7 separate regions of the Homo sapiens genome follow, and regions 1, 2, 3, 4, 5 and 6 are each reported to be linked to region 7. The links are microRNA targets in miRTarBase. Many come from high-throughput screens and were not tested one by one. Region 7 holds a microRNA gene; each other region holds the end of a gene's coding sequence.
Evidence for each region. The annotated mature microRNA hsa-miR-125b-5p reads UCCCUGAGACCCUAACUUGUGA and lies in region 7 at 2,158-2,179, shown strand. An mRNA with a match to its seed (bases 2 to 7 or 8) in the 3' UTR can be bound and repressed. Matches are read on the target gene's strand: a 7mer-m8 pairs with bases 2 to 8, a 7mer-A1 pairs with bases 2 to 7 and ends in A, and an 8mer does both.

Region 1: miRTarBase lists THUMPD1 as a target of hsa-miR-125b-5p. The part of its 3' UTR that is shown has no 7-base or 8-base seed match.
Region 2: the mRNA of HMGCLL1 is a reported target of hsa-miR-125b-5p. Seed matches in the 3' UTR shown: 7mer-A1 at 1,647-1,653.
Region 3: miRTarBase lists CCNJ as a target of hsa-miR-125b-5p. Seed matches in the 3' UTR shown: 8mer at 1,324-1,331.
Region 4: the mRNA of TIMM23 is a reported target of hsa-miR-125b-5p. The part of its 3' UTR that is shown has no 7-base or 8-base seed match.
Region 5: the mRNA of PRDM1 is a reported target of hsa-miR-125b-5p. Seed matches in the 3' UTR shown: 7mer-m8 at 2,467-2,473.
Region 6: the mRNA of LTV1 is a reported target of hsa-miR-125b-5p. The part of its 3' UTR that is shown has no 7-base or 8-base seed match.

The regions. Positions count from the first base shown.
Region 1 is chr16:20,734,416-20,737,499 of GRCh38, reverse strand. THUMPD1 (THUMP domain 1 NAT10 acetyltransferase adaptor) reads left to right here. Exons shown (of 4, transcript NM_017736.5): 4 at 214-3,084. The coding sequence ends at 620. It also overlaps a transcript of ACSM3 not described here. Among named protein-coding and RNA genes, the nearest start is that of THUMPD1, 5.9 kb to the left of the region's middle.
Region 2 is chr6:55,433,185-55,436,268 of GRCh38, reverse strand. HMGCLL1 (3-hydroxy-3-methylglutaryl-CoA lyase like 1) reads left to right here. Exons shown (of 9, transcript NM_001042406.2): 9 at 506-1,896. The coding sequence ends at 607. Among named protein-coding and RNA genes, the nearest start is that of GFRAL, 110 kb to the right of the region's middle.
Region 3 is chr10:96,057,632-96,060,715 of GRCh38, forward strand. It overlaps CCNJ (cyclin J), which reads left to right. Exons shown (of 6, transcript NM_001134375.2): 6 at 199-3,084. The coding sequence ends at 610. All of the region lies in intron 2 of ENTPD1-AS1 (ENTPD1 antisense RNA 1), which reads right to left. Among named protein-coding and RNA genes, the nearest start is that of MIR3157, 5.2 kb to the right of the region's middle.
Region 4 is chr10:46,003,166-46,006,249 of GRCh38, reverse strand. TIMM23 (translocase of inner mitochondrial membrane 23) reads right to left here. Exons shown (of 7, transcript NM_006327.4): 7 at 2,508-3,047. The coding sequence ends at 2,932. NCOA4 (nuclear receptor coactivator 4) reads left to right here. Exons shown (of 10, transcript NM_001145263.2): 10 at 1-1,162. Among named protein-coding and RNA genes, the nearest start is that of SNORA74C-1, 20 kb to the right of the region's middle.
Region 5 is chr6:106,107,041-106,110,124 of GRCh38, reverse strand. PRDM1 (PR/SET domain 1) reads right to left here. Exons shown (of 7, transcript NM_001198.4): 7 at 187-3,084. The coding sequence ends at 2,639. Among named protein-coding and RNA genes, the nearest start is that of PRDM1, 22 kb to the right of the region's middle.
Region 6 is chr6:143,863,331-143,866,414 of GRCh38, reverse strand. LTV1 (LTV1 ribosome biogenesis factor) reads right to left here. Exons shown (of 11, transcript NM_032860.5): 11 at 2,603-2,998. The coding sequence ends at 2,888. It overlaps ZC2HC1B (zinc finger C2HC-type containing 1B), which reads right to left and starts at 1,941. Exons shown (of 8, transcript NM_001013623.3): 1 at 1,848-1,941. The coding sequence starts at 1,875.
Region 7 is chr11:122,098,904-122,101,987 of GRCh38, reverse strand. MIR125B1 (microRNA 125b-1) reads left to right here and starts at 2,144; the gene lies at 2,144-2,231. The region is part of intron 4 of MIR100HG (mir-100-let-7a-2-mir-125b-1 cluster host gene); the gene reads left to right.

The DNA of each region.
Region 1 (3,084 bases), not on the chromosome of region 7:
AATTGAATTTTGTTTGGAAAAAAATTCTTATTAAATGTTGTAGGGTTTCATTTGTGTTTATTTATTGTAAGGGTTCAGATTATTTGAAGTCCACATAGAAGAGTGGATTACTGTATGTCTTGTTTTAACAAGAAACAGAGACAAAAGATTTTTTGTATCTATCAGATGTAATGGTATCCTCCTCAGCTATGTGTTTTTCTGTTTTTGTTACAGGAATAGTGTGCACCCTCAATTCAGAAAATAAAGTGGATCTCACCAATCCACAGTACACAGTGGTAGTAGAAATCATCAAAGCTGTCTGTTGCCTGAGTGTTGTGAAAGATTACATGTTGTTTAGAAAATACAATCTCCAGGAGGTGGTGAAGAGCCCTAAGGATCCGTCACAGCTTAACTCAAAGCAGGGAAATGGGAAAGAAGCTAAACTGGAATCTGCGGACAAATCAGACCAAAACAACACAGCAGAAGGAAAAAATAACCAGCAGGTACCAGAGAATACTGAGGAGCTGGGGCAGACAAAACCAACGTCTAATCCACAGGTGGTAAATGAGGGAGGAGCCAAACCTGAACTTGCAAGTCAAGCCACAGAAGGATCCAAGTCAAATGAAAATGACTTCTCATAGGAAGTCATTTGGTGTTGGAGGTGGGTTTCTCACCTGGGGCTCTACGAGATGTTGCTGGGGCTCCACCTTAAATTGTGACTAAAAACAGTTTTTTATTTGTGTGCTGCATTATGCTGTTCTCACAGTAGTGAGCAATGATTGCGCAGCCCTGTTAACAGTTTTTTTAGGGATCTTTCAGCCTTTATGGTATTACGTAGAGGCAGACCCATGTGCTGCTGTTGCAAAGAGGGGAGGATAGGAGGGGGATGTTGGCCTCTCCCAGGCTCCTCTTCTGCAGTGCCAGCTGACTTAAGGGAGTGAACTACCTGTGAAGTAGAAAATCAGAGGGAAGTTTTCATTCTAAGGAAGGAGTTTTTACATGCCACAGCTCAGCTGTCTGCCTGCCACTTTGTTGTAAACATTGCAAAAATGTGGATCATGTAGGTTAGAAGTGAATTGTTTAGTGAAGTTTTTGTACTTTTGTGATTTTCTTGTTTATGTCTGTTTTTTTTTTTTTTTTTTAACATTTGTGTGTAATATAGCTGACAGTCCAGTGTCGCAATTTTGGAAGGCAAGATGTGAGAGAGACGAGAACCATTTTAGGCATAGAACTACAGACATTTCTGAAAAGGTTGGTGATGAAGAACTTCAGTCTTCTGAGTATACTTCAGTATACTAGTGCAACAAGGGACACAAAGAAATTCTGTCTTAATAAAGAAAGCTACTTCTCAAGGGTATTATGTGGACTCAGTCCAAGCTCTCCTGTCCCATTGTGCATTGTCTGTGACATGCAACTTACAAAACTAGCAATTGTAACAATAAATCACAGCCACTTGACAAGAAAGGATATTCATTATTTTCAAATGGCTTTTGGACTATCAAAAACAGTAAGGCTTTTGTTCAGAAATCACCTTTAGTCAAAAGGTTTAAGAAGCAAATTATTTAGTAGCAGAACTTATCTCAGGAAAGGAAAATATGCATGGTTGGTGAGAATCTAATAACATTAAAATGCTGGGGCAAGATGCAGTACAAAGTTGAAGAGACTTTATTCTCAATAAGTTGATTTACTGATGATATGTCATATGATGCAAAAAAGGTTTTGTGTCATTAACTGAAAAGTAGCAGCTTCTCTATCCAGGATGATGAGTCAACAGGTTTCACTAATATTTGTCATGCTGTAGCATTTGTAAGATTTGTAAATGATGAAATTCAAAGAAAACTTTTTCTATTGCTAGGAGCCTGCCAGAACAAAGGCCAATATATAATGTTGTGACATCATATCTGATAACCAGAGGTCTGGTATCTACACTCCTGGTGCCCCATCAGTGGTTGTCTCCATAAGTCATTTTGCGTTATTAAAAAAAAAAAAAGAAATCCTGATGTTGACATTATAGCACACTGCTTTCTCCACAGAGATGCTGATATCAAAAACTTGAAGATACAGTGAAGTTCTGAATAATGTTACAAAACTGGTTACCTGTATCAAAGACCCATTTATGCAAAAATGTTAAAAAAAAAAAAAAACACCCAAAACAAAAACCTGGACAGACAGCACATAAACCTCCTGCACCATACAGACATCCAGTGGCTTCTCAGAGGAAGCGTTCTCTACAGGATATTTGAATTGAAAGGTGAATTGCCAGAGTACTTACAATAAAACAGCCAGCTTTTGCTGAGTGCTTTGGAAATGAAAAATGACTACAGAAAGTAGCCTATTTTGCAGACGTTTTTCATCACATGAACAAATGGACAAGTCTCTGAAAGGTTCTGGGGAAAAAAATTTTTCTTAAAGCGACAAGACTCTTAGATCTAAAAGGAAACTGACTTGCCACCTTGCCAGAGGAATTCTTGAAATGTTTCTGCAGCCACTTGGCCTTGAAAATAAAGGGTGCAACTCTCAAATCTTGTTCTAACCCGGCTGGAGGAACCACAAGACCCAATGAAATAGCATTTTCTCTCCTTTTCCCAGCACTAGTATATAACCTATGAGGAACCCTTGTCTCTGAATCTGCTCAGCTTGAAATTTTGTCTCTGAAGGAAGAGAATGAACTCAGCCCTAGTCTGACAGTCCTAGATTTCTGTGAAATAAGAGTATTCTTCAACTTAGTGCTCACACTCACATACCATGAGGGTTCTCTGCAGGGGTTTAGGGGTTTCCTGAATTTGAAAGTTTTTTCAAGGCCTCTTTTTGGGTAAAACAATTGAAAAGGCAGACACCAACAAAGTCTGCAAAATTAACTGTCCAGATTAAGAATATTAAGGAGCTGTAAAATTAGCTTGTAGAAATGGACTTATCCTTAAGTTTTAAAAAGTTAGGAAATCCTAAAAATGTTAGGCTTCCTGCACAAGTGGCTATGTTCATTTAATGGCTAGTGAACATGGGAATGTATTTTTATCCTCCTAGCTGGTGGTTCTGTTTGGTAAACCAGACTAGAATGATTTGAGAGGGGCAAAGAGAATAGGCAGGACCTTCCTTCTATAGCTT
Region 2 (3,084 bases), not on the chromosome of region 7:
AGTATTTCTGGCCTTGGTTTAAAAAATATATATGTATATATATGCATACACCTTTTCTGTAATCCTTATGGCTTTTTCAAGTTTGTTTCTTTATATAGTAAAGAGGATAGTTTTTTTTCTAAGTCAGTTCTTATCTATAAACTGCTCCAAAACATTATTTTGATTGTCCTTCGCTGATGCTTTGTTGACTGCTTTTCTAGTTCCATTATTGTCCTTCCTAGACTCTAGATACCAGCCTGAATTATGATGTTTTTCAAGTGTGTCTACCTATATTATTATACAAGGGTCAGATTAAAGATATGCTGTAATAAAGCAGACAAATCTAAAATGTTAACAACATTATTCATGGAAACAAATGTTGCCCCAAAATTGATAATGACCAACACCACTTTGTTTAGTAATTTTAAATGGTTAAGTAACTACTAATAAAATTTAAAAGGCTATGTTTTATCTTTTTTCTCTCTAATCCCTCTGCCTTCCTGATATTCCTTCATTTCGTCACCAGGGTGTGAATCTATACAAAGTGATGGAAGCTGGTGACTTTATTTGCAAAGCTGTGAATAAAACCACAAACTCTAAAGTAGCACAAGCCTCCTTCAATGCTTGACTTGAATGGATTTATGACGTACCGTTGAGAAGATCAATTTCAGCTACAATACTCATCTGAAAATCATTAATGCCAACTTGCTCTGATATGTGAAGTAATGGACAAGAGTGGGAAAAAAGAGATCCTTTTCAAAAAGATTATAACTGGATAGATTAAGTCAACAAAATGCAATATCAGTCATCAGGTAAATTGCAAGCTGAGGATAAATAATAAAACTTGTCATAATTTTGAACTTGGAAAAAAGTTTCTTTTGCTCTCATAGAAATAACTTTTTAATTTAGTAGATGGGAAAATTGACTTCGTATTTCCCCAAGTATCAAATACTGTGTTAATACTTAATCAAGCAGGCTTAACACTGTGTACATATTGTCAGTAGTTTATGAGCTCCTGCATAGTATGCAGAGTGTGTGGCCTCAATATTATACATTATGCCTCTGGATCTCAACTACTCATTTGCCAAGTCAGTTATGTTATGGACCAAAAGCCAAATCTCCATCTGACCCTACATAATTTTAGCAATAGAACTTTTATATTTCAAGTATGGCTAACATCTGTTAACTATTTCAGTGACTTTATCTGGTTCCAAGAGGCTGTGGCCAATGGCAAGATGCCATATCCTGGAAACATATTACGACCTCCCATGTTTGTTACATGCATCCAGTTTACCACACTTTACCTGTCATCAGTTATAGTAAAAACCAGCATGGTGTTACTCAACTATTGAGAAATTGTAAGCTATTTTTTTTTGTCCTGATGTCTAAATTGCAGTGATAAGAATAGGTTGATACATGTATCATAATCTACCTTTATAATTTTCAGATCACTTTCAAATTGCCCAAGGAAATATTGTGATCCTAAGAATATTAAGATAATTTTAGGTTAATGAAATACCCATTTTCCTTTTATTCATGGTGCTTTGCTTACCCACATTATTTTTTGGTGTATTTTTTAGTGGTTATTTTAGAAGTTGAAGTGGCTGAAATTTTGTCTATTGTCTTAGAATTGATTGCCAGAAATTGCAAGATGTAATATATCAAAGTCAGGGATGAGGAGCAGGAGGACTATTCAAGATAAACTTCTGTAACCTATGCATATTTTATGGGGGCAGTATTATTACAAATGGATCTGAAATGTCAGTTCTAGTATTTAGAGAGACTTCTCTAATAATACCGGGTGATATTATCTTTGAGTAAATTTGAATATAAATTGAAACATAAAAATGAGTATTGTGAACTTTCTAGGAAATATTCATTAAAACCATTGAAATAAAAATAAATTCAAGAAAGTAAGAAGTACTGATTATGTTGCATGGTTCTGGAGCAGGAATACTGAGAGCAATTCTCTGTTTTGGGCTTAATGTTTGTGGGTTGGGGGAAATGCAGGGAGCAGACAAAAATCAAAGCTGGTTATGAATCTTTTTCAGTTACATCTCCCTGTGCATCTCTCTTCACGAAGCACATGACCCTGCACACTGGCAGTAATGGGACACCTGCAATTAGCGTGTACAACTGGATACGTACCCCATATTCTGAGGAGACTGACTTCCTATCTCTTACAATGCTATGCTGTTCCTAATTTCAGATATTTGGAAAAGCATCTCTTGTTACAAACTGCCCATAGTAACAACTAAGGGGATGATGGGAAAGCATTGCTGTTTTGAAATGAAAACCATGGACTTTGAAAGACAGAGCAAGTAGTCAGAAACTCCAAGTACAGTCTACAGCACAGTTACATAGCATCCATATCAGTGTACTGAGTCACTTCCATGAATACCTTGATGCTACTGAATCACATTTAGTATGAGAAAGCTTGTTGTAGGTATTTGGTATCCTTTCTCCACACAAACCATCTAAATCCCTTTGATAGTTTAAGAGAGTTTCTTTTCTGGTTTTATTTTCTCCACCTTATTTATCTTTTGGCCTCTTCCTTCTTATGTTTGACTGCAGACTCACAAATGCACAGTTGCCTTCATTCTTGCAACTCAACATGTGGTCCAAGACCAGCAGGATAATCCCCTGGGACCTTTTGAGAAATAGAATCTGAGCCTTCACTCCATACCCATTGCATCACAGTTTGCATTTTAAACAAGATCCTTACGTGACTCATATGCAGATTAACTTTGAGAGGCACTTGCCTATTTGATACCTCCTCTTGGGTATCCAACAGGCATCTCGAGCTTCATATATATTCAAAATTCTTGTACCATTTTTCACTTTGTGCACTGTAGTCTACCCCACTGTCTTCTCTGTTTTTGGAACAAGGCACACTCAGATCCATCTCAGGTCCTTTACCTTAGTTTTTTTCTGTGTCTGTTTCCCTGGCTCTTTCCCTGGGCATGTTTGGCTCCCTCTTGTCATTGAGGTCTCAGCATAAATTTTACCTCCTTAATGAATCTTCCTGGACAACTCAGTTTAAAGTAAGTCCTGTTACATTCTCTCACATCAACTCATTTAATTATTAATTATAGAATTTTTACC
Region 3 (3,084 bases), not on the chromosome of region 7:
CCAGGAAGGTTCACATCAAGGGAAATAGCTTTAGAAGAACACAAGCGAGGTCTCACTGTTGTTGGAATTATGGTGCAGTGACTGCTACCTGGGTAGTGGTGGTGGAAGAAGCTGTTGAGTTGGGGATGGGGCATGATTTTCTTGCAGATTTCTTCTCAAGCAGTATTTTTAATAGTTTCCTTTCTCTCCACGTTTCAGCGCTCATGATAATGATGTGAAAGAAGCAAACAAACAGAGAGGGCAAGCAGGACCTCAGTCAGCGCAACTAAGTGTATTCCAGACAGCCTCCCAGCCATCACGGCCAGTTCACTTTCAGCAACCTCAGTATCTCCATCAGACACATCAGACCTCACTGCAGTATCGCCATCCTACGTCAGAACAACCAAGCTGTCAGCAGATTGTATCGACCACACACACCTCATCTTACACACTACAGACATGTCCTGCTGGCTTCCAAACTAGTGTTCAGGGCCTTGGGCACATGCAGACTGGTGTTGGGATGTCACTGGCAATACCAGTAGAAGTTAAGCCCTGTCTGAGTGTTTCTTACAACCGGAGTTATCAGATAAATGAACATTACCCTTGTATTACTCCATGTTTTGAAAGGTGATTATTTGTGAAGCTGATAACCGACCCAGACTGCTTTGTGACATGAAGCTATGGGTAAGCGTTTTGTAAACTTCTGTTCAAAAGGAAAGGGATCTAAATGACATCAGAACTCTTCAGGTACCAGCACCAGGAAGACTGAATATCCTTTTTAATGCACCATGAATCCTGGGAGACTAAGCAAATTAACAGTATGTCAAATTCTGTTACAACAAATCCCTGTATGACAAAAATGTTCAAGTCCTGGCTGATGGTCCAAATATTTCAAAAATATTCAGTACAACAGAAAATTTGGACAGACTTCAATTTGCCATTTTGAGATTTGACCTGTGGTAGCATCTGGGCCTAATGTTGGCTTCTAAGTCAAAGACTAAATGTTTATCTCATCTATGGACTTGCCAAACAGTCTTTTATGAAGGAAAGTTACAGTATTAATTTTTGAAAAGGTTTTTTTTATTCTGCAATTTTTTATTTTTGTTCTACACATGAATTTTTGACTAAGTTTAAACTCATGAATTGTTATGCTATACCAATCTGCAGTAAAAAAAATTTTTTTAGATGATTCTATATAACTTCGTCTCACAAATAGTGTAGGTATCTGGGTTTATATACTAAAATTAAGGGTGGAGAAGATCTTATTTTTTAAATCATGGTCATAATTTTTCTTTTTTTCCCTAAGTGATCAACATCAAATTTTTAGAATTAAAATACATTTAACTCAGGGAATTTGTACTACTTGGAAACACTTAACTGTAATGCAACATGCCTTGGGAATGTTATAGTGTGAACTACCTTTATAACATAGGTTAAAATACGCTTGCTAGGGTGTGTTTTCAAATGAGAACATAATATAGCTCAGAATGAAGTGGTAGTTCCTGTGATTCATAATACATATGTAGGTTTTGCATATCTCAGTGCAATCCATGATTTATACTCAGAATCGACATTCTTAAAAAGTTATTTCAAGGGATGGCATAACTGTAAGAGGTCAGTGCTAGAATAAAGTCCTGTAGGTTTATTTTGGAAGGGACTGTGGCCAGGGTAGTTCTCAGGTTGTGCTAGAGCAGCACTTTGTTATGTGGAAGACAGGTTTTTTAAGCAACCTTTGAATCCAGCTCTAGTCAGTCTAAGCAGGCAAAGGTAACTGATGACTAAATTTCAGTAGCTACTTTCATTGGATTGACCCTACAACTGCCCTGGGACATTTCACTGTACCAGTATTAACTGCAAACAGCAATAATTGTCATTACAGCAAGGGCAGTTTGGGGGTAAAGCATTTTGGAGGAATAACCTTAAAAAGTTAAAAAGTCATTGTAATAACTGATAAACTGTATACATTGTGCTCCTTTCTGTGGGAGAAGAAAGATTTGGTGGAGGGAAGCTTTCTGGTTTAAAAATTAGTAAGGTGTGTCTTTTTGTTTTTTTTAAGATAGCACTTGAATAGAAGGGAAAACTGCATGGCAGATACGTGACTGCCACAATATGCATCGAAGACAAACTTACTATAAAGATGTTGTGGGTATGCAGCAGGAGTCTCAGTAATCAAGCCAATGGCCTTTGTCAGGAAGGGAAGGGGCTCAACACAGTGATGGACTGATCCAGATGGCTCCCGGGGATGAATGTGGGTGGGTAGCTTCTGTCAGTATCAATGCTTAGAGAAATATCCTTTCCTTAAAAAGAAAATAACTTTTATATTTAGAGTACATAGGGCATGATGTGGATTTATTAGTCTGGTAGATAAAATGAAAAACCACTCAGGTAAGAACACTCACTCATGGCAGTTTTTAAGCATGAAAATTGTTTTCTGAAAGTATCATCACTTTTCCTTTTTAAAGAAGGCTGCTAATTGGATTTTGGTAGTTCTTACCTCAAGAAAACTTGAATTATTTGGGGGAAAGTAGGCTCAAAAGAGAATATATCTTTCACATTCACATTCAGAACCCAGCAACCTGGAGTCCAATTTTCAGTATTTTAACTACCTCAATAATGCTATGAATGTAAGATATTGGGATAGAGATCCCAACTTGAAACAACAGCCAGTGCCTGTGGTAACTTAATGTCTTGTCAAATACTTTTATTGATTGGTTTATATGCCATTCTTGTTATAGAAGAATATGCCTTTTAAAAAAGCTTATTAATAACACTTTCCCAATTTATATTTTAAAAAGCTAAAGAACACTGGATTAATAATCTTTTGGGAGGGTAGAATAAAATAATTGATTACTATTGCTGCATACCCGGGGTGGGATGGGGTGGTTGGAGAACCAGAACTATTTTTAAAACATTAGGTTTCAATATAAATACAACTCACAACTGCTAGCTTTGGGGGGTGGGGGAACATTGTGTGGGTTTTGTTTTGTTTAATTTATTGATTAGTCTTTAAAGTAGGCTTTTTTTTTTTTTTTTGAGAATACTGGACCATCATTAAATGTGTACTGTGAAGAGATTAATATGTATGAAGGGCTTTACCAAAGTCCA
Region 4 (3,084 bases), not on the chromosome of region 7:
TTGTTTATCGAAGTATATTGATGTATTCTAAAGCTAGTAAACTTCCCTAACGTTTAATTGCCCTACAGATGCTTCTCTTGCTGTGGGTTTTCTTTTGTTAGTGGTCTGAAATAATTATTTTCCTGTTCTATTAATACATAGTGTATTTTGCACAAAAAAATTAACCTGGTCAATAGTGATTACCAAAATATATATTAATAATCTTGGCAATTTTTGACATTAATTATGAAACATTTTAGCCCACGTTAGTTCTACATTATTCTTCACTTAAACTCAGCTACTGCAAATTTTGTCTTTCTGTAAATGTTATTAAAATATCCAGTGAGCTCTTTAGAAGGACTCAGTATTATTTCAAGACTATTTTTGAGGTAATTCTAGCCTTTTAAAATATTCTACAGACCTACGGGGCTTAAAAGAACCCCAGTACCGACTAAGCAAATAGGCAAAAGACATGTTGGAAATGTAGTATAGTACTTGAAACAGTCACTATCATAGGGATAATTGGTGCATCCTGTGTAAATGGAAGCTGAGCTTGACACCTGGTGCTTTTAAGTAGGGATAAAGTCATCCTCTCACTGCAAGCACAGCATACCTGTACCTCCAAAAGTGACGTTTTAGTGAACAGGCCGTTTTCAACACTTGTGCCTTGGGGTGTTCATTGAAGCTTTGTGAAAACTACTGATGTTTTCTCAGTCTCCTTAAAGTTACGTCCATGCTTTAAAATGTCTGTGTAGGAGAGAAGTGGGGTTTATAATGTTTTCTCTAAGATATCTTTGCTGCTTTCCAGACTTTGAAACTATTAAGCTTCTTAACTGCCTCTTACCGGAAATACTTCTGGGGAAACTTCATGGTCCCAAAATGTCATTGCCATACAGCTTCACTAGAGTTCTTTGAACCACAGCTGAAAAGAGCTTTGTATTATTTTTTAATTCCCTCCCCAGATATCATTTAGGAGTATTATATAAAGGTGGTGGGCAAAAACAATGTAAGGAGCCTTTCCAGTTATCTTGAGTTGCAGCTCTGTAGTTTCTTGAGGCCAAACACACTGTATTTTACAAGTCAAAATATAATTTACATTAATCACTATGTTAATGAGTATGTAAAACATTCTTTTGCATTGATGAATTTTGTATCTGCTTCCATTAAAAGCATAACAGCCATAGTTGTTGCGTGTTATTTTTAAAACTATTTGTCACAAAGTGTGGTGTGGTACCACATAACGTGGTAACTTTTGGTTAGTAATCCAGCTGAGAAACAGCTTGAACATAAAAATAACATCAGTGTATTTTATGAAAAATTAGCAAACAATAGGTATATTAACCTCCATTTTCAGTCTTTTATAAAAACTATTCACATCTATTAAAAAAAAACCTATGGGACTTCAGCCAAGATTCAGTGCCTTTCTACTGGATTCCTCTTACTAGATGCATCCGAAGAGGCCCTAGTTTACTTTCTCCAATCATATAGCCACCAGGTATTTAATACAGTAATATTTATGTGTATAACCTGTAGTGCAATTATACATGATTAACTTCATATGGTGGATGAGAAAACAAACTCAGAAATTAAACAATTTGGCCTCATGTCCTTTAGTTTTCCCAAGGCTTCCTTGAAAAACATCTAGCTCTTGGCCAGGCACGGTCGCTCACGCCTGTAATCCCAGCACTCTGGGAGGCTAAGGCAGGTGGATCACCTGAGGTCAGGAGTTCGAGACCACCCTGACCAACATAGTAAACCCCGCCTCTACTAAAAATACAAAAATTAGCTGGGCATGGTGGCAAGTGCCTGTAATCCCAGCTACTTGGGAGACTGAGGCAGAATTACTTGAACCCGGGAGGTGTTCAAGTAATCTCAGCAGTGCGCTGAGATTGTACCACCGCACTCCAGCCTGGGGAACAGAGACCCTGTCTCAAAAAAAAAAAAAAAAAAAACCTAGCTCTTAATTATTCCTAGTAAGGTGTGAGTTAATATGTATGGAATGAAGCAGGATTGTTGGAAAGATTGTTCTAGCATACTAGTCTAACGGCTGACCTGAAATACCTTGAGGTGGTTTAGTACCAGCTCTATTGGTGAATGCCACCAGTAGCTCATTTCTTTTTTTGAAATGGAGTCTCACTCTGTCACCTGGGCTGGAGTGCAGTGGCATGATCTGGGCTCACTGCAACCTCCGCCTCCTGGGTTCAAGCGATTCTCCAGCCTCAACCTCCTGAGTAGCTGGGGTTACAGGTGCACACCCACCACACCCAGCTGATTTTTGTATTTTTAGTAGAGACAAGGTTTCACCATATTGGCCAGGCTGATTTTCAAACTCCTGACCTCAGGTGATCCACCTGCCTTGGCCTCCCAAAGTACAGGGATTACAGGCGTGAGCCACCACACCCGGCCACCAAGTAGCTCATTTTAACACAAACACGAAGATGTTGTTTTGCCCACTGGGACAAAAAATGCCAAGGGTACCTTTCACTTTATACCCAGGTAGATACTTTTAAATTGAGACAACCACTATGTTTGTGTGTTGGAGTTATAACTTTGGTTCTGTTTTTACCCTTTATTTGGAATACAGTGCAACATTACAGTTTTGGATCATTAAATGAATGGACTTGGTGATATAGTACTAACAAGCACGACCTGAATTCTGGGAGTAAGTGGTTTTCTAGTTCATGGGGGAGGAAAACAGATACGTGCAAGATCTCCAGAGGAGAACAGAACCATGGTACTCAGTGAGTCACCAAAGGGCTTTGGCTTCAACTCACTAATGGCTGGAACAAGTGCCAGTCTTGGTCAGCCATCCAGGATTTTCATCACAGCAAATCAAAATCTCCAATTTTTCAAACTAATTGTAGGTAGAAGAGAGAGAATAACTCCAAACTGTCTTATAAAAGGATCTAGATGACTACTGAAGTGTCCTCCATTCATGAGTTGGCAAAATCTTCAGAGTGACTGTTGGAGCAAGGAGCCTTTCATGTGCTCCCAGTTATTATATAGTGCATAGAGGCTGGTAAGTGTTAGTCCTGTCAGACCACCTCGTGCTATCCCTCGAAGACCACCTGGGAAACAGAGACAAAAGGAAAATGAAATAGCTGT
Region 5 (3,084 bases), not on the chromosome of region 7:
AGATCACGCACAAATATACTCCTGGAAGGAGCCGGGGGAGATCAGGGCACCCCAGAGGGTGCTGCAGAAGAACAGGGGTGGGGGCAGGGGAGAGACAAATTGCATTGTGTTCAAAATTTGTTCTGGTGCCATCTGTACAGTATGGAGATGTCGCTCACTGACCCTTCACTCAAGACACTAGACAAATTTTGGTAAAGCATGAACATTTATATTTAATTTACATTTTGACAATTTGCACATAAATAACATTGTAAACCAGTATGTAAACATAAGATAGTTTGTTGTTCTAGCAAAGTAAAAAGCCAGTAACTTTGGTCAGTTTTAACTTTGAGTAGAGGAAAAAATAAAACCACTGTTGATTGTGGGCTCAACATTCACATGTAAGAGGCAGAAAAGAGAAGGATGGATGGTGAGAGAAGCAAGAAGTCTTTATAAAAATTCTCACTATGGGAAAGCACAAAAGGAGAAAAAGAACAAACGAGTAGTTGGGAATCAAAAGTATTTGGTCTAATGTCAACGTGATGCTTTGGTTTACCTTCAGTTAAGGACTGTGTTTATCAAACACTGATACATAAAAAGCTGTCAGTCTTGGAAGTTACAGAAGACCAGTAAGGCTCTTGGGTTTCCCTGGATTATTCGAAATTTGTTCTCTTCTACAGGTGAACATTAGTTGATGTGAACAAAATGTCAAATATAATTATAAAATAGATTGGAGTAATGTATCAGTATTTAGTAAGGAGGAAAACAGAAAAATTGCAGCGGTAAAGTCAGTTTTTTATTTCTGTGACTTGGGTGTGACCACATAATCATAAAGTGGCAAAAAAAAAATAGAGCTGTCTTAGATGGTCCTTAATACTAAAAAATGATGTATCTCTTCCTCCCTGGTTGTTTTGTGGTCCCCACCACTGCACCAAGGTTTTAGGGTCTCTTACAGTAGGCAAGGGTGCCCAATCATACCGACGTGATTGTGAGGTCACCAAGTATTAAGCAAAGTCTCAGAAAGGAGTGTTCTTTTTTTTTTTTTTTTTTTTTTGCCCTTAGAAAAAGTAGATCTTTTACATGGCTTGGCTCACAATTTAAGTGGTTATAAATATATATACATATGATATAGTGGTATAAATAGATTTATAAATATACATCATTTTTTGCTACACTTTGAACACCAACATGTAATCTTTGGGCTTAGCAGAATAAAAGATAGAATAACACAAAGTCTATCTTGCTGGAGCACATTTACTCGGTTTCTCCTCTAGAGAAGCAAATCATTAGATAAGACATCATTTCCTGCACTACTGGACACACTCAATGAGGTAACTGTTGTTGAACAACTTTGCAATGCCCTTTCATCTTCCATTAAATTAACCATAAAATGTAAAAACACAAATACTGAGGAAAATCTGAGTTTTACAGAAAAAATACAATTGATGTGTTGGGGATAGGAATGTTCATTACCCGCTTTTACCCCAAGATGACTAGAATACCCGTTTTTTGTTGTTTGTGTGTTTGTTTTTAAAGTGTGGCCTGAGCCTATCTACCTCGAATCCTTCCTGGTAGAGCACCATGTTTGTGCAATTTTGACATTAAAAAAAAAAAAAAAAAAAAAGCAACAAAAACCAACAACAAAACACCACCCAGACTCAAGCCCCCAAATCGCACACACACAAAGCCACCTATGCTTTGGGGAAATTTTCGCAGTGGTTTTAAAACATGGCATTTTTTTCTTCTTCACATTTTCTGATAATACAATGGATGCAAAAGTCATGTGGCCGCTCTGAATGGCCACAGGACTCGGTGGGGAGGGCAGGGCGGTGGGAGGATTCTGCTCTTTTGGAGGGAGAGACAGGTTGGTAAAGCCTTCCTGTCACCCTTCCGGTAAAATTGTGGCTGGGGGAAAAACATGAACTATCAACAAAAATATACAAGATTCCCTTTCTTGTTTCTTCTACTTAAGTTATTCTTGGGTAATCCTGCACACATACCCCCAAGTTATGTACAATGCTGTTCAAATGATAGGATCCCAGGAATGAACACATCAACTGTCCAACATTGGCAATTACCCAAACCTCATTTTCAAACCATTATTAGAGAGAGAGGTTGACTGAAGTCATATATTTGTTTAACTAAATCTTAGGTACTTATACAGATGTGCAGAAATTATCTACAAAGAATGGCCACAAGACAAAAATACATTTATACTCAAATTACAAGGAATCTTTCCAGTCATTGTAAACTTTTTTAATTATTGCTTTCTGAATGATAAATTGTATAATAAATTATGAAGGATTATCATTGAAAAAATAATTATGACTAGGTAATAGTCTTAGTAATGGGAAGGCTATGCAAACATGTCCACACAAATATTCAAAATACACAGGGGCAAATATATAGACACAGGTGTAAATAAGTATATATAATATGTATACAGATATATATATATATATATATATGGCCTTTGCCTTGTTCATGCCCTGAGATTTCAGTAACTTTGGAGTTCCTTCTTTAATTCCAGAGGTGAGGGGAAACCATTTGCTGTCGAGAGAGCTTTGCAGAGCTGGGATTATGTACAAGCCACTTCCTACAGGCACCCTGACTCACCAAGTCATAACTTAAGAAACAAAATAAGTGTTTTCTGAAAATCTTAAGGATCCATTGGTTCAACTGTTTCTTGTTTGACCTTTACAGGTACCAGAGGTAGTGGGTTGCTGGGAGGCAACTTCATGAGGGGTAGATCTGATGACTCATAAAGGCTGCACCCTGAGGAGAGGAGTCCATTCCCCATGTTTCTTTGCAAAGACACTTTCAGGCCAGTTTCTTCTTTCTCTTTTCTGACCACGGCCAGAATTTCCTTCTCCACTACAGAGATCACACTGATGTCATCCTCCACGTCCTCGAGCCGGTCAGCATTGTCACTGATGTCAAACTTCTCGATTTCTTCATTGATTCGGGTCAGATCTTCCAAGGGCAGCCCAGGCGCCGGGGCCGCAGCGCAGTTCCCTTTCAGGTGAACCTTGAGGCTACAGAGATGGATGTAGTTCTTGTGGCACTGGGAGCACTTGTGGGGCCGCTCCCGGGTGTGCAGACGCT
Region 6 (3,084 bases), not on the chromosome of region 7:
CCCAGTCAGCCATGTGATCACGAGGGCAAATTGATAACTCTACAGCGTGCTGTATTGCCAGATGGTTTTGCACAACTGTGGGCTAATGGAAAGTATTCTGAGCAAGTTTAAGGTAGGCTAGGCTGAGCTATGATGTTCAGTAGGTTAGGTGTAGTAAATGCATTTTTGGCTTACCATGTTTTCAGCTTATGGTGGGCTTATCAGGGCATAATCCCACCACGAGTCAAGGAGCATCTGTGGTACTATGATATCCAAGTGGTTTTACACCATTCACGGGCAGTGCTTAAACAAAATAGGTGGGCCGGGTGTTGGCGGCTCATGCCTGTAATCCCAGCACTTTGGGAGGCCGAGGCGGGCGGATCATAAGGTCAAGAGTTTTGAGACCAGCCTGGCCAACATGGCGAAACCCTGTCTCTACTAAGAATACAAAAATTAGCTGGGCATGGTGGTGCACACCTGTAATCCCAGCTACTCGGGAGGCTGAGGCAGGGGAATCGCCTGAACCCGGGAGTTGGAGGTTGCAGTGAGATGAGATCGCACTACTGCGCTCCAGCTCGGGCGCCAGAGCAAGACCTGTCTTGGCAAAAAAAAAAAGTTTAAGATACAAATTCTTCAAGATTTTGCCCCCTGCCTGGATCTCTTAGGCCTTTCTCTCCTCCCTAACCCCAGTGATTCTAGGCCCTGCTATGGTTCTATGTTTAATTCTTTTCTGAAATCTTTCCCATCTATCCATTCATTCATACACTACTTTGTGACTGTATACTGAATGCCAGGCACCCTTCCAGACCTAAGGATAAAGCAATAAATAAAACACTGTGCCTTCAGGGTTTGTCCTGCGAGAGGAGACTGAAAAACAGTCCTCTGCGTCAACAGATGTTGTGGAGAACATAAACCAGGGAAGGAGGGTCAAGGATGCAGGGGAGGGATGCGTGCAGGATTTTTAAATACAAGCTCAGGGAATAGCCTATAGTGAAGGTTACAGCTGAGCACCAACCATGAGGAAGGTCTGTCTGCAGTGAAAGCACTTCTGGGGGAACAGCAAGTACCAAGATTCTAATTACAAGTGGTACTTACCACGATAGTATTGCCAGTTACATTTCGCTGCACCTATCCTGCCTCCTCAGACCATGTGGCTCCTGAAGGCAAAAACCCTCTGATCTCTTGGGCTCCCAACATTTAGCATGGAGCTTTTATGTTCAGTTCCCAATCATCATTTATAGATTTTTAGAGAACCAAGATATCAGAAAATTCATTTAAAGTATCATGAATTTGTTCTTCAGAATAAAATTAAAATATTTAAGTTTGGAGTATAACCTGCCTAAATCACAATATGCTTCATCAAGACTCATGGCCTAGTCTTTTTCTCTTAATTGCAAAATATATAATATATGGATTTAAACACAGTGAAGTTAGCACCTCATAACACAGAATTTGAGTAACATGACAAAGAAACATCCAATGCCTATTAAGACTCTTGCTGTTTTTGAGAATCTTCAGTTGAGACAGCTATCAAAATAAATGGCCAATCCTTTTAGTACTTACATTCTCAATATTGACATAAACCATCATCTGACCCTTTACTTCACAGGTTGGCATTTAAATACATTCTCTCCAGTATCCTACTTCTGCAATGACAAGCTCTTCAGTCAAGATTTTTTTCTAGCCAATGTTGGTAGAATACCTAATGCCATCAGTTTTGACAACTCTTTAAAAATCCTACAATACTTAGATTTAAACGGATCACACATGGTAGAACAAGCTAATACCTACCAGCTTTGGAAAAGCCATAAATGAATGATTACAGATGAAGGCATTTTCTAATAATTTAGATATCAAGTGCAGCTCACCTGCCAAAAATGGTTCTGCCCCAGCCATTCTGTTCCTAACTCAGAGCAACAGTGTTCACAGATTTTTACAGCCCAGTCCAGATAACATCATACTAGTCAAGAACATAAACCAGGACCACTAATCTGTTGCAAGAAGTCATAGTTTACCAAATAATCAACAATTGTGATGATGTCATTGCCTAAACCTTGAAAAAGTTTAAATCAGTTAAAACAAAAATCAACTCATCAAAAACAGGGAAAGTTTTCAACGATGTATTTTAATCAAGTATGAATGGTTCCAAGCATTAACTGATGTTGAAAAGACAAACTCCCCAGTTTAAACTGAAATAAATATTTCTGATTTTGAACTAGGGACTCACTGAAGCCAAATAAGTTTTCTTATTTCCTTGACTATTCTGTTTCCTGCCTTCACTGTTCCTAAATCCCAAAAGCAAGTCATCCAGTAATATAACAGGAAATATGAATCTTAAGAACCTTAATATTCAGTTTTGCCACACTTTTGAAACAGTCCTTTGTATACAGCAAGGGAAAACTTAGCTTCCTAACAGTGGAACCTTCTCAGAAAAACTCATCTTACACTAAACAGAATAAAGTCAGCATTTCAAAATTGAGTTTAACCAGGCCACTTTTCTATTTACAGCAAATTAAACCATGTAATTCCTGAAAAGGCGTGGAGAGGATTCAAAGAAATATTTGAAAACATCTGCAAAAAACAACTATGACAACCATACAAATAAATGAATACACCAATTCCATTCACGTTATGAAGATATTTTCCTTTAATTTATCAAACATTTCACATTCATGAAGTCATTTACTTCAGAGCAAATGTAAGCTTATAATATTAAAAATTAAAGTATTACAATATTTACAAGATGGTTGGCAGGGGACACTTACTAGTATAAAAATAATACAAATATTGTATTTTCCTCTTATCTGCCAGTAAAAATGGCAAACAGTTTTGTCTTTCTGAAGTTTCTAGTCAATAACCAAAGATGAGGAGCCCCTAATAAAGTGCCTTGCCCTGTATGCTCCACTGTCTATAGCTTTAGACCCTCAACATTCTTCTTCAAGTTCAGCAGCTCTTTTTCTTGCCTTCTTTTCTCCAGTTTAAATGCTAATTTGTTAGCTTTCTTCTCCACTCTTCGTTCCTGTTATAAGTACAAGAATATACTTGTATTATTCACATCTTTAAACTGATACAGACTGCTTTTACAAAATTCCCCTAATTTCCCCT
Region 7 (3,084 bases):
GGTGATTAGAGGGGGATATTGATTTCTTATTCTGCCAGAGATTTAAGCAGGCATGCGAGGAATCTGCACCATGGTTGGCAAAAAGAGACCCGTTGCCTCCTGTAACCAGACACTCAGGCTTTCCAGGAGCCCAGGGAGCAAGCCGAGAAGAAAGGGGGCAGTGTGGTCTAGGAAAATTCAACTTGTCGCTGATTTGTGCCTGATGCCTGCTGTCCGTCAGCAGCCTCCCTTACAATCTTTTTTTCTCTCTCTCCTTTTTTTTTCCTTGCCTTCTCCTTCTTCACTGAAGCCTAGGGGAGCCAGTAAAGATTAAATGTGCTTCTCAAAGGCAGCCACTTCATGCTGCTATGTCGAAAGGGCCATTATTATTATTATATTTTAATGGTAAAAGAGAAAAGGAGAGAGGTTGAGCGAGCGAGAGAGAAGCTAGGTGTGATGATGACAGACTAGCTTTTCTGAGAGGAAAAGGAAAAGGGAAGGGAGAGAAAAAGGAGAGCCTCTGAGCTCAACGGAGGATTGTGCCTGAGAAGAACCCACAGAGGTGAGAAAAAAGTTGTCTTGAAGGTGGGGGTGGGGGGGCTGCTAAACAGACACTGTACAGAGGGAGAAGAGACATAATTTAGCTGTGTTGCTAGTATGATTCCATTTTTAAAGGAGGGGAGGGGGAGAGTCTAGAGCTCTAACTGTTTTTAGTTGCATATGGAAATATCTAAAAAAATATTTAGCATTTTTACTAAGTGCGTTGAGGCCTCTCCAGTGTCCTCCTGGCTGTGGCTGCTTTGTCATTCTCTTTGACTAGCCAGCCATCTACCTTGCTCAGGCCTGGAATAAAAGAAGAACAAGAAGAAGAAAGAAATGAAATGAAAAACAGAAAGAAAAAGGAGAAGAAACATTTGTAAAAGGGTCATCTTCCCATCTGCCTCCCCTCCTTTTCCTTTCATTTTTGGTGGCGGCACAGGAAAGCCCCACTTCCAGTCTGATGAGGAAAGCGACAATCTATCAGGTACAGAACCAGGGGCTGTCTGCGAAGATGGAGGGGAATTATGCTTCGGATTCCTCTGAAATATTGGCCAAAGGCTTCAAAGAATCCGCAGCGGGAGGTGCGGGGGGAATGTCTCTCCCCAGCCCGCACCCAGCCCTTCCCACTTCGTGTCTACCAAATGACAGCCTGGTGCTCGCTCTTGGTGATTTGGCCTTGACTTCAGCCAAGCAGCTGATGCAGACGAAGCCTCCGTTTGCAGGACTGGCAAAGTGCACGCTAAAGAAAGAAGGAAGAAATTTTTCAAAAAGCAGCTCTGGGGAGGTTTCATACTCCCCCCCCCCCCCCGCCTTTTTTTAATTTTTAAGTGAATATTTTCCAAATTTGATCAGTTCCAGCCCCTCCCTCCACTCCCACCCAACTGCCCTTTTTTCTCTCGTCAAAGCATAAGCTACAGAGTTACAGTCTCGAGATTTGGTGTATCGCTTCCTGCCCCCGCCTCCCCTCCCCGCCCCCGTTCTCCGTCCTCTATTGAAACACCTCGCCCAGCCTAGCGCACTGAGAGCTCTCATTTTCCCCCCTTGCTCGGGATGGTGCCACAGGAGGCTGTGCGGGCCCCGCTCCGCTTCGAATGGGTGAGTTCAGAACGCTATTCGTCTTTACACTTCTATAGCCTCCGAATCCTACTTCTTGGTCTTCTCCTTTGAAAACCCGATTTCTATGATTTTTGCATGCGGCATACTTGCCCTGGGGGAAAGAGATGCCTCCTATTTTCTCTTCAGTCATTTGTGCTAGTCGTAAATTAAAGCTTTGAAAAGACACTAAATCCTTATTGTAGACTATGGTTTTAAAAACTTGGGCATTTCTGAGTCTGTGCATATTATTTTCCGTTTTAGTGAACTATTTTGCCCAAATCTTGAAAGAGTTTTCTCTGATGTACTCGTGATCGTATGTGTATGTGCGTGATTGTATATGCGCCCCCAGATACTGCGTATGTGTGTATATATGTATTAGGCTTAAACGGAATCTCAATTTTGTGAAGGAAAGGAGCTTAGAGAAGAAATACCATACCACCTGTTTGTTGCATCTTAGTTATGAACCTCGAACAGAAATTGCCTGTCATTCTTGTTTTGCTTTGCTTTGTCTCAAGAAAGAAAACATTGTTGCGCTCCTCTCAGTCCCTGAGACCCTAACTTGTGATGTTTACCGTTTAAATCCACGGGTTAGGCTCTTGGGAGCTGCGAGTCGTGCTTTTGCATCCTGGAAATTTGGTGGAATTTTATTCTTTAAAGCAAAAACAAAAGAAAAGAAAGTTTGTCTGAGGTGATTGAGTATACCTCTGAGGTTTTCATTGTTAGATGGGATCAGGTGACCAGAGAGTGGCAGCTCCTGGATTTCTGTTAAAGTAGGTATATATTTTGCTTTAATAGCGTGTTGGCTGCTATGTGTATGTATGCATGTTATTGATGCCTGAGGCTTGTGGAACTCATCTGCCTGGTCTATTCCTTGAGAGCAACACGCAGTAGTATACGAGCGTAACAAGAACAGCTCAGTACCTGGTGCTTGACCTCAGAACATCTCAGCTGAAGTCCCAGCATGCCCCATGTCTCCAACTTTCAAACTCCACAGTTAATCTTAAAATTGTGCCCAATTAAAATGGGCATGTGAATATATTATATATTCAGTGTCCACACATGTGTATCATGGATGGCTAGACAGTGAACATACAGACGCAGATAAAGGCAAACTAATAGTTTGGAGTAAAATATTAATAGGTTAAAATTCTATTCTTGCAATTCCACACAAAGGATGGAAGTTATGGTATTAATAAAAATTAAGTTTGTATGACTTTGCAAGATTTTTTAAAAATAAAAGGAGGGATACCACCTCCTTGCTTGGTATCTTTTACAAAATGTTATACTTTATGGATATAAAGGTGATAAAGATTGGAAATAAATCTTCTAAATATGTAAAATGAAAGCAACAGCAACAGCAAACACAATTATCGTATTCTTTGGGAGTAACAAATACTGGTTTTCATTTTAAAACTAAGGAAAATTTTATCAGTACTTAAATTCAATCCAAAAAAGGTTTTATAACACCCA